2 linked regions of the Homo sapiens genome follow. The protein of the gene in region 1 interacts with the protein of each later gene in a pairwise test. Each region holds a gene or a part of one and is shown on either strand. Other genes may lie near its edges.

What was found. Proteins that work in one complex are often made in the same cells at the same time.
Region 2: the proteins of SEC62 (region 1) and GLUD1 interact in a two-hybrid assay, tested with the Homo sapiens proteins (one large-scale study listed by BioGRID and IntAct).

The regions. Positions count from the first base shown.
Region 1 is NC_000003.12:169,975,773-169,981,483, forward strand, and holds part of SEC62 (translocation protein SEC62), read left to right. Parts: intron 1-1,173; coding exon 1,174-1,279; intron 1,280-5,711. UniProt on the Homo sapiens protein: Mediates post-translational transport of precursor polypeptides across endoplasmic reticulum (ER). Proposed to act as a targeting receptor for small presecretory proteins containing short and apolar signal peptides.
Region 2 is NC_000010.11:87,070,844-87,074,343, reverse strand, and holds part of GLUD1 (glutamate dehydrogenase 1, mitochondrial isoform a precursor), read left to right. Parts: intron 1-3,500. UniProt on the Homo sapiens protein: Mitochondrial glutamate dehydrogenase that catalyzes the conversion of L-glutamate into alpha-ketoglutarate. Plays a key role in glutamine anaplerosis by producing alpha-ketoglutarate, an important intermediate in the tricarboxylic acid cycle.

The DNA.
Region 1 (5,711 bases):
ATTTGGGATATGTAGAAGTTTTAAAAGTGCTTTCCAAATGTGATTGTTCTGGTGATGGACATATGGCAGTTGATTATTCTGTTCTTTTCTTTTATGATTGAAAATGTCTATAATAAAAAGATAACATGTTTTCTAATAACAATTGTTGGAAATTTTTTTAAATAGGATTTATTTTCAGTGTTTTAAAATACTACCTTTTGTTTAGATAGTATGCGTACTTGGAACTAAGAGCACTGGCTTTTTTTCCCCAAACAATGTCATTATAAGCTGATGTCATTTATAACACCAGAGCTTATAAGTAGGGGTTGAGTTTGCCTTTCTCATCAATTAAAAGTGAATTGCAGCTGGGTGTCGTGGCTCACACCTATAGTACCAACACTTTGGGAAGCCAAGGCAGGAGGGTTGCTTGAGGCCAGGAGTTCGAGACCAGCCTATGCAACACAATGAGACCCCATCTCTACAAAAAAATTAGATGAGTATGATGGCATGCGCCTCTGAAGTGAGAGGATGGCTTGAGCCCAGGAGTTAGAGGCTGCAGTTAACTATGATCCCACCACTGTACTCCAGCCTGGGTGACAGAGCAAGAACCTGTCTCTTAGAAGAAAAAAAAAACTAAATTGCCAGTGTAGAGGAAAAGTCCTTTATCGTCTCTTTCTTTACTGTTTTTAATGATTTGACATTCATTACAAGTTTTAAAAAGTAGATGTGCTAATCTCTTCAGATATAATATGTTTAGCTGTTTCTTGTGACAGCAGTGGATTGTTGACAGAGCTTCTTCCTCAGTGTATTAGAGTAAAACTTGATGAGAATTTTTATTACTTGCAGGGAGTGGTGAACATTTTGGTTTATCTACATATGCTTGTGATTAATAAGAGTGATAGTTACATACAGATATTTTAAATTTTTGAATATTTCCCCATTAATTTAACTTGCTTTAGTTGGTCTTTCTGAATGCCATTATTTCCCAACATTACTTTTAAAAGATACTTAATATAGTTCACAAGTTGAGGTTTTGGGGAACTACTAATCATGATCATGTTAGATTTAGTTTTCTGTTGAGTTTGGTTTTCTTTTTTGTTGCCAGAGTGTTGAAATTTTACTTTATAAAATATTATTTAGATAGACATAAATCCCCATGTATGCTAAATTTAAAATAATGAATTTCTTCTTTAGCTTCAAAAGCAGTGGACTGTCTTTTGGATTCAAAGTGGGCAAAGGCCAAGAAAGGAGAGGAAGCTTTATTTACAACCAGGGAGTCTGTGGTTGACTACTGCAACAGGTACTGTTTATTTCTTAGTGAAGAATAACATAATAATTTTAAATTTTCTTCATAGTCCTGAAGCTCCTTACATCATTAAATGTAGTGATACTACAACATAACTCAAATACTGTTTTCACATGTAACCTGATTTCTTTGGTACCTCTGGAAATGTGTTTGGTATTAGACTATTATACTTTTAACTGTATATAATTTTTATTTATGTTCTATTTTATATATTTGTGAGCCCTACTGAAGGGTCAGCAACAAAAGTCATATACCAGTGCCTACAGTAGAAAAGAAAGTTTTTTCTTTTGTAGAGCAAATTGGTTGAGGAGTCTTTTTTTCAAAACTTTTGCAGGAATTCCTATTAGCTGTGTTACCGCTACTTTTTTAGTGCCTGCACCCTGAGCCATAAGCCTCATACCCTTTCCTATTTGGTTCAGTGTTTGCTAATGTAGTATTTCTTCTAAAATCAAGGAAGCTGCAACATCTACCTTATCTTTTTCTGAGAATTTCAAGATGAAATACAGCTAATTCAGTAATATACATATATTTTTCATAATAGATACTTTTTCTGTTTTGAAAAAACTTTTGATGTTAAGTGGTTTACCTAAAAGACAAAATCACCTTCCTTTTGGAAGGAAGTATGCTGGTTTTTCTTTCCATTTCTTTTCTTTTTTTTCTTGGTTTACTTAATACTAAGCATTTTCTTAATATATGTTAACTAAATTTTGTTTTCATAACACTAAAGCTTATCTTTTGGGATTTTAGATTATTTTATGTGTACTAATATTTTATTTAATGGCACCTAAAGTATCAGCCACATAAGAACCCTCTTAAAAACCACTATTTCACAACCTGGTTTCTTAAGCTGTCAAGTTAAAGAATTATTGAATATTTCTTAAAATTCTTAGTTGCCAAAGACTAGAGGTTACTAACAGACCTTTTAGAAACAGTAGGTTTCGGCCAGGCACAGTGGCTCATGCCCGTAATCCCAGCACTTTGGGAGGCCGAGGCAGGTGGATCACAAGGTCAGGAGATCGAGACCATTCTGGCTAACAAGGTGAAACCCCATCTCTACTAAAAATACAAAAAATTAGCCAGGTGTGGTGGCGGGCACCTATAGTCCCAGCTACTCGGGAGGCTGAGGCAGGAGAATGGCGTGAACCCGGGAGGCGGAGCTTGCAGTGAGCCGAGGTTGCGCCACTGCACTCCAGCCTGGGCGACAGAGTGAGACATTGTTGAGACAAGGATGAGCTAACACTCATGCAGTTGATATTTGCTTGTCTTTTGTAGCAACTTGTCTAGTTAGAATTAGCTCCAGCAAGCATATATCCAGGGCAACTTGAATCTGCTCGTGGGGAAAAAATAAAAAGGTGAATAGAATTAGCTCCACGGTACAAACTTCCAGGCTGGGCACAGTGGTTCACGCCTGTAATCCTGACACTTTGGGAGACCAAGGCAGGGAGATCACATGAGGCCAGGAGTTCAAGACCAGCCTGGCCAACATAGCGAAACCCCATCTCTACTAAAAATACAAAAATTAGCCAGGCGTGGTGGCATGCACCTGTAGTCCCAGCAACTTGGGTGACTGAGACATGAAAATAGCTTCAGCCCGGGAGGTGGAGGTTGCAGTGAGCCGAGATCGCACCACTGCACTCCAACCTGGGTGACAGAGCAAGACTCTGTCTTAAAAACAAACCAAAAAGTACAAACTTCCTTACCTGCCACAAAACTGATGTATTTTTTACATGTTGTGTAAAAATTAAGAGATGCTACAAATGCAGAAACTGGGGCACAGAGAACTTAAGTACTTTATCTAAGGCTACACAGCTAGCAAGTGGCAGATCTAGGGTTCTACATCTAGCAGCCTGTCTCCACAGTCTGTGTTCTTAACTACCGCTCTATACTGTCTCCTCCAACAAAATGACGATGCATTTAATGGAGCTATTAGATCTGTAAGCCCAAATCTCTGAGTAGAGCAGCCAGTATGAATCCACATTTTTTGGCTTTTTAGGAGCCTTGGTACCTTGTTATTTGAAAAGCTCAAAAGACCTGAGTACAGAGAGTGTCCAAAGACACTCGATTTTCATTGTATACGCTCTTCCCACTGATGTCAGATTGTTTGAGTCCTTTCTGCACTAAAATAAATGAGAATAGCATAACTTTAAGGTCTCCAGAGCCACTTCTAATATAACCGTAGAGTCTTATTGGCCAGTTCTCATGAGTTGCTGCCCAATAGCAGACAAAATCACAAAGGGTCTCTTGACCAGTTTCTTTTTTTCTTTTTTTGGCATCCTCCAATACTGTCAGTTTTTCTGAGGCAGCTAAGTGGCATGAGGGAGTCTGAGGAAAAACAAAATAGGAAAATGTAGGATGATAAAACAATCTTTTCTAATGTGATCTATACCTTTTTATGGCCTATATCATGAATGAACTCATACATACTAGGTTAAGTCTCCACAAGACTTTGTATCACTGACCCCCAATCCAGTTATGTCGTCCTCAGTCTTGTGCACATGCCACACTCATTTTTTCTTCTAGTCTTTTTCCTATCATAACTTGCCACTTTCCCTAAACGGTTCTGTTTCCTCTGTCCCACCTGCCTCTCAAAATCACAAACAAATCCCTCAAGTCCTTCCTCTACCGAATGTACTCTTCCCCAGGCCCTCCAGCCTTCATCAGCCTTTGTATCTAAAGTTCTACTGAGTTTATCAAGTTAGTACCTCCCAGTTTGGCCCTTAACTATTTTAGAATTGCTACATATGTGTGAGTTTTTTTAAAATCTCCTGCCAGCTAAATCTGAAAACAATTGTAAGACTGTTTTATACTTTATTGTAACTCCATAGCAATTACCACAGTGTGAGCACTTCATAAAAACTCACCTTTGCCACATTGGTGGAAGTCCCCAACATGTCTGGCATTTAATAAATGTTTGTTAAATCTGAAAAAAAAATGGAAGTGAAGGAAAAAAATACAGAAGTAATTTTTTAAATGTTTTAGAAGCTGTTTTAAAACCACTTACTCAACAAATAGTCTAGGCTCCAGGAATACAATAATAACTATGACTTGGTCCCTACATCAAAACATATTCTGATCTGTTAGGGAAGATTTATAACTAATCACAATGCAGTGTGTTGAATAAGGAAGAGAGAGATGGTGAAACTATGAAGAATGACATCACACAGAAAATGTTTTAAGTAAATTTTGAAACATAAATAGGTGATTACCCAACAAACAAGAGAAGAAAGGAAATTCATTCCAAGCAAAGGGCATAGAACACACCGAGATAGGAAAGTATGAGTAGTTGTGTAAAAATGTCAGAGAGTTTTATGTTAGTAATGTGTTCTATGTCATGGGTTTAAAGCCAAACAAACGGAGGCTCTGATACTATACAAATGTTAAATAATGTCAGTCTCATCTTTCAACCTAATTGTGAAATTATTTTCAACACAATTTGATTGAAAGTTAATAATCTACTTTTCTTTCGTGGGGGTGGGCAGCTGTGCAGGAAAATTGACAGAAGCAGATGATCCTGCTGGTTCTATTGCCTTCAGTATCTACTCATCAGGGAAAAGGCTTTTTTCTACTAAAGTTGCATTGTTTGTTTTTAAAATTCTTTATTAAGAATCATTTTTTCCACTAAAGTAAATTTAAGAAAATGGGAACTGTTGCAAATGATTTAGAAGAAAATCCAAATTACTAATAATGTTGCTTCGTAGATAGCCAGCCACATTACCATTTGAGAATATATACTTCAAGTATCTGTATGTGTACACATGTACTCTTAATATATGGACATGTATATTAACTGCATTATAAAATGCTGCTTTTTCAATTAACATATGAGGAACAGGATGTATTTTTATTTTCATTTGGAGTGGAAATAAATGTTCCTGAAAGAAAATCTGGAAATCATATAAGTGCACAAAGAAAATTAGAATATATTTTCATTATAGATTTTTTTTGTAAGACATTCTGGAGTAAAAAATGTAAGACTACACTTCATATTCAAATATGCCACTACTATTCTTAAATCCCACTTTGTACTCATAAGTAGTTAATCATTAAGGTCTCATTTCAGATTCTTGTTTGTTTATATATGTATATGTATTCATAGCAGATATGATGGTAGCATTTTGAGGGGCAGTTTGAACATTTGCACAATTATATGCACAATCATATTTACATAATTTAAAAATAGCTCTTCCAAATAAGTAGTATGGGCCAAATGAGGAAACCTAGAAATTAGCTTTGTGGAAGTGCTCATAGGCTGGACCTAATTGGGGAGCAGATGGAAGCCCAGCCAGGCAGGTAAAACATAGAAACATAGGTGCTTCAGGGGACTGAACACAGTGACAAAAAGAAGTGGTTATCTGGGCAGGAAGAAAGCATCTAGTTAACAAGTGCTGTGATGTGCTGGAGCAGGCACCAGTGAGGTGTAAGTAGA
Region 2 (3,500 bases), on another chromosome or scaffold:
TTTTTACTGGAGATGGGGCTTTGCCATGTTGGTCAGGCTGGGCTTGAACTCCTGACATCAGGTGATCCACCCATCTCGGACTCCCAAACTGCTGGTATTACAGATAGGAGCCACTGTGCCCGGCCTCCTACTATTTGTTATAGGAGCTTTTGCCAAACATACAACATTTCTGAAGATATTAATCTTTGTTTGCTTGATGTTTTTGTATCTTACTATTATCTGTGTTTATATTTTCTTTGTGCACAATCTGAATATTCTTTTTATGATATGTAAGTATTTGTCATGTACCCTTTAATTTTCAAGCAGTTTAAACCTATATTTTTTTTAATCTAGAAGGCTTCTAATTTGTTTGAATAGAATATGCATAACTACTTAATAGAATGCTTGCCCTATCAGTATAGTTAATAGAATGTTAATACTTACTGCCGAGCGTGGTGGCTCACACCTGTAATCCCAGCACTTTGAGAGGCCGAGGCAGGTGGATCACGAGGTCAGATCGAGACCATTCTGGCTAACGGGGTTTAGTAGGAATCCCATCTCTACTAAAAACACAAAAAATTTGCCAGGCGTGGTCGCGAGTGCCTGTAGTCCCAGCTACTCAGGAGGCTGAGACAGGAGAATGGTGTGAACCTGGGAAGCAGAGCTTCCAGTGAGCCAAGATCACGCCACTACACCCCAGCCTGGGCAACAGAGCGAGACTCCGTCTCAAAAAAAAAAAAAAAAAAAAAAAAAAGAATGTTAATTGTTACTTAATAATAGAATACTTGTCCTATCAATATCAGTATAGTTAAACAAAATAAGGTCTACTTAAATAGAAAATAAAGTGTATTTTTCTCTACTTTCCTTTCTTAGCATTTCCCCCACAAGTTCCCATGAAATTAAACTATAAAGGCTGGGCATGGTGGCTGGTGCTTGTAATCCCAGCATTTTTGGAGGCTGAGGTGGGAGGATCACTTGAGCCCAGAAGTTCGAGACCACCCTGGGCAATATTACAAGACCCCATCTCTACAAAAAATGAAAACATTATCCAAGCGTGATGGTGCATGCCTGTGGTCCCAACTACTAAGATGGGAGGATCCCTTAAGCCTGGGGGGTTGAGGCTGCAGTGAGCTATGATTGTGCCACTGCACTCTGGCCTGCCACACTCTGGCCTGAGCAACAAAACGAGACCACATCTCAAGAAGAAAGAGAAATGAAATAAAGCTATTCGGATTCATTTTTAGGAAAAAAAAGTCATGAAATAAATGTCATGAAATAACCTAATATAGAAATACAGTAAGTATAGGTAACTCTAAAACTTGACTAGATTTGGCCTGTCTTTGATAATAAAAGGCATTTGGGCCTTTGATGTGCCGCATACCCAGCACTACTGTGAACTTGTGCATCCTTACATGGAGTCTGTTAACGTAAGTTAATATGAGTTAACTATCTCGCTCACACTTTTATAGGAGTGCCTACTGATTCTGAGATATGGTGAATTGAAGTCATCTTCAGCCTGTTAATAGCCTTCATAATTTTTAAAAGGTCTTTCCTCTTCCCCTAAATCTCAAACACATTTTATAGTCTTGAATGGTTTCAGACTTTATTCAGTCATATTTGTCACCCATATCTGCAATATCTCCAGCTTAATTTTATCAGACTTGACAAGTACCTAATAATTCCAAAGGTCAAAAAGTGATTCATTGGAATACTGAAAGAAAACACAGCTTAAACTCTAGTAATTTGATTTATTTGCTTAATGTGCAAAAGCCTCATTGACCCAGGATGCAGTTAAATTGACGTCTTGGCCCAGAAAGCTTTGAAGCCTAGGAGGTAGGCAAAGGGAGTTTTTTCTCTCACTCCTCGGCAAACCTTCAAATTTGATGTTATTTATCTGTTATTTCCTGACTGCCCATTCCACAGAGAGTGTCAGATTGAGGCTCAGACCTGAGCCTGAACCCTGATCCTGTCACATGTGTGTTTAGCATCAGCTTGTAAATTTCTGCAAAACAAAAGAAAAAAAGAGGCTGGGATTTTTATAGGAATTTCATTGAATCTGTACACTAATTTGTGGAGTATTGCCATCTTCCCCACCCTCCCCAAAAAGGTTTTGTCCTTTCACCCAGGCTGGAGTACCAGACAGCAGTCACTGCAACCTTGACCTCCTGGGCTCAAGCAATCCTCTCACCTCACCCTCCCAAGTAGCTAGAACCACAGGGGTGTGCAACTGTGCCTAGCTAATTTTTTAATTTTTTGTGGAGACACGGTCTCATCACGTATCCCAGACTGGTCTCAAACTCCTGAGCTCAAGCAGTCTTCCCACCTCAGCTTCCCAAAATTCTGGGATTATAGGCATGAGCCACTGCACCTGACCAGTATTGCCATCTTAACCATATTAAGCCTTCCAATGCTGAATATGAGATGTCTTTCCATTTATTTAGGTCTCTTGATTTCTTTCAATGATGTTTTGTAGTTCTCATTGTAGAAGTCTTACATAGAAGTCTTACAACTAAATATTTTACTCCTTTTAATGCTATTGTAAGTGACATTGGTCTATAGTTTTCTTATGATGTCTTTGTCTAGTCTTTGTATCAGGACAATTCTAGCCTCATGGAATGAGTTGAGGAGTGTTCCTTCCTCTTCTGCTTTTGGAAAAGCTTTTGAAAGGTCAATGTTCATTCTCTTGTGTGAGTGTAAATATCACCTAAGTTCTGCAGGACCCTGATGTCTCCACCCTTCTCATCCCCTTATATCTCTGTGTACCAAAATTACCCTTTCATCTCCTACTCTATAGTCACATGCTGTTAGAAAAGTTGCTTTTTTAAAAAAGATTAACTTCTGCCTCATACCTGTTCTCTATATAAGAATTTATCTGTTAGGCCAAGCATGGTGGCTCATGCCTGTAATCCCAGCACTTTGGGAGGCTGAGGCGGGTGGATCACCTGAGGTCAGGAGTTCGAGACCAGCCTGGCCAACATGGTAAAACCCCGTCTCTACTAAAAATAAAAAAAAATTAGCCAGGCAGGTACCTGTAATCCCAGCTACTCAGGAGGCTGAGGCAGGAGAATTGCTTGAACCTGGAAGGCGGAGGTTGCAGTGAGCCGAGATCATGCCATTGTACTCCAGCCTGGGCAGCAAGAGTGTAACTCCTTCTCAAAACATAAAAATTAAAAAAAAACAAAAAGAATATATCTGTTATTCAGGAACTACTTGTTTTTTGTTTTTGTTTTTGTTTTGAGACAGAGTCTTGCTGTGTCACCCAGGCTGGAGTGTAGTGGCACGATCTCAGCTCACTGCAAGCTCCGCCTCCCGGGTTCACGCCATTCTCCTGCCTCAGCCTCCCAAGAAGCTGGGACTACAGGCGCCCGCCACCACGCCCGGCTAATTTTTTGTATTTTTAGTAGAGACAGGGTTTCACTGTGTTAGCCAGGATGGTCTCGATCTCCTGACCTTGTGATCCACTCACCTCGGCCTCCCAAAGTGCTAGGATTACAGGCATGAGCACCGCACCCGGCCTCAGG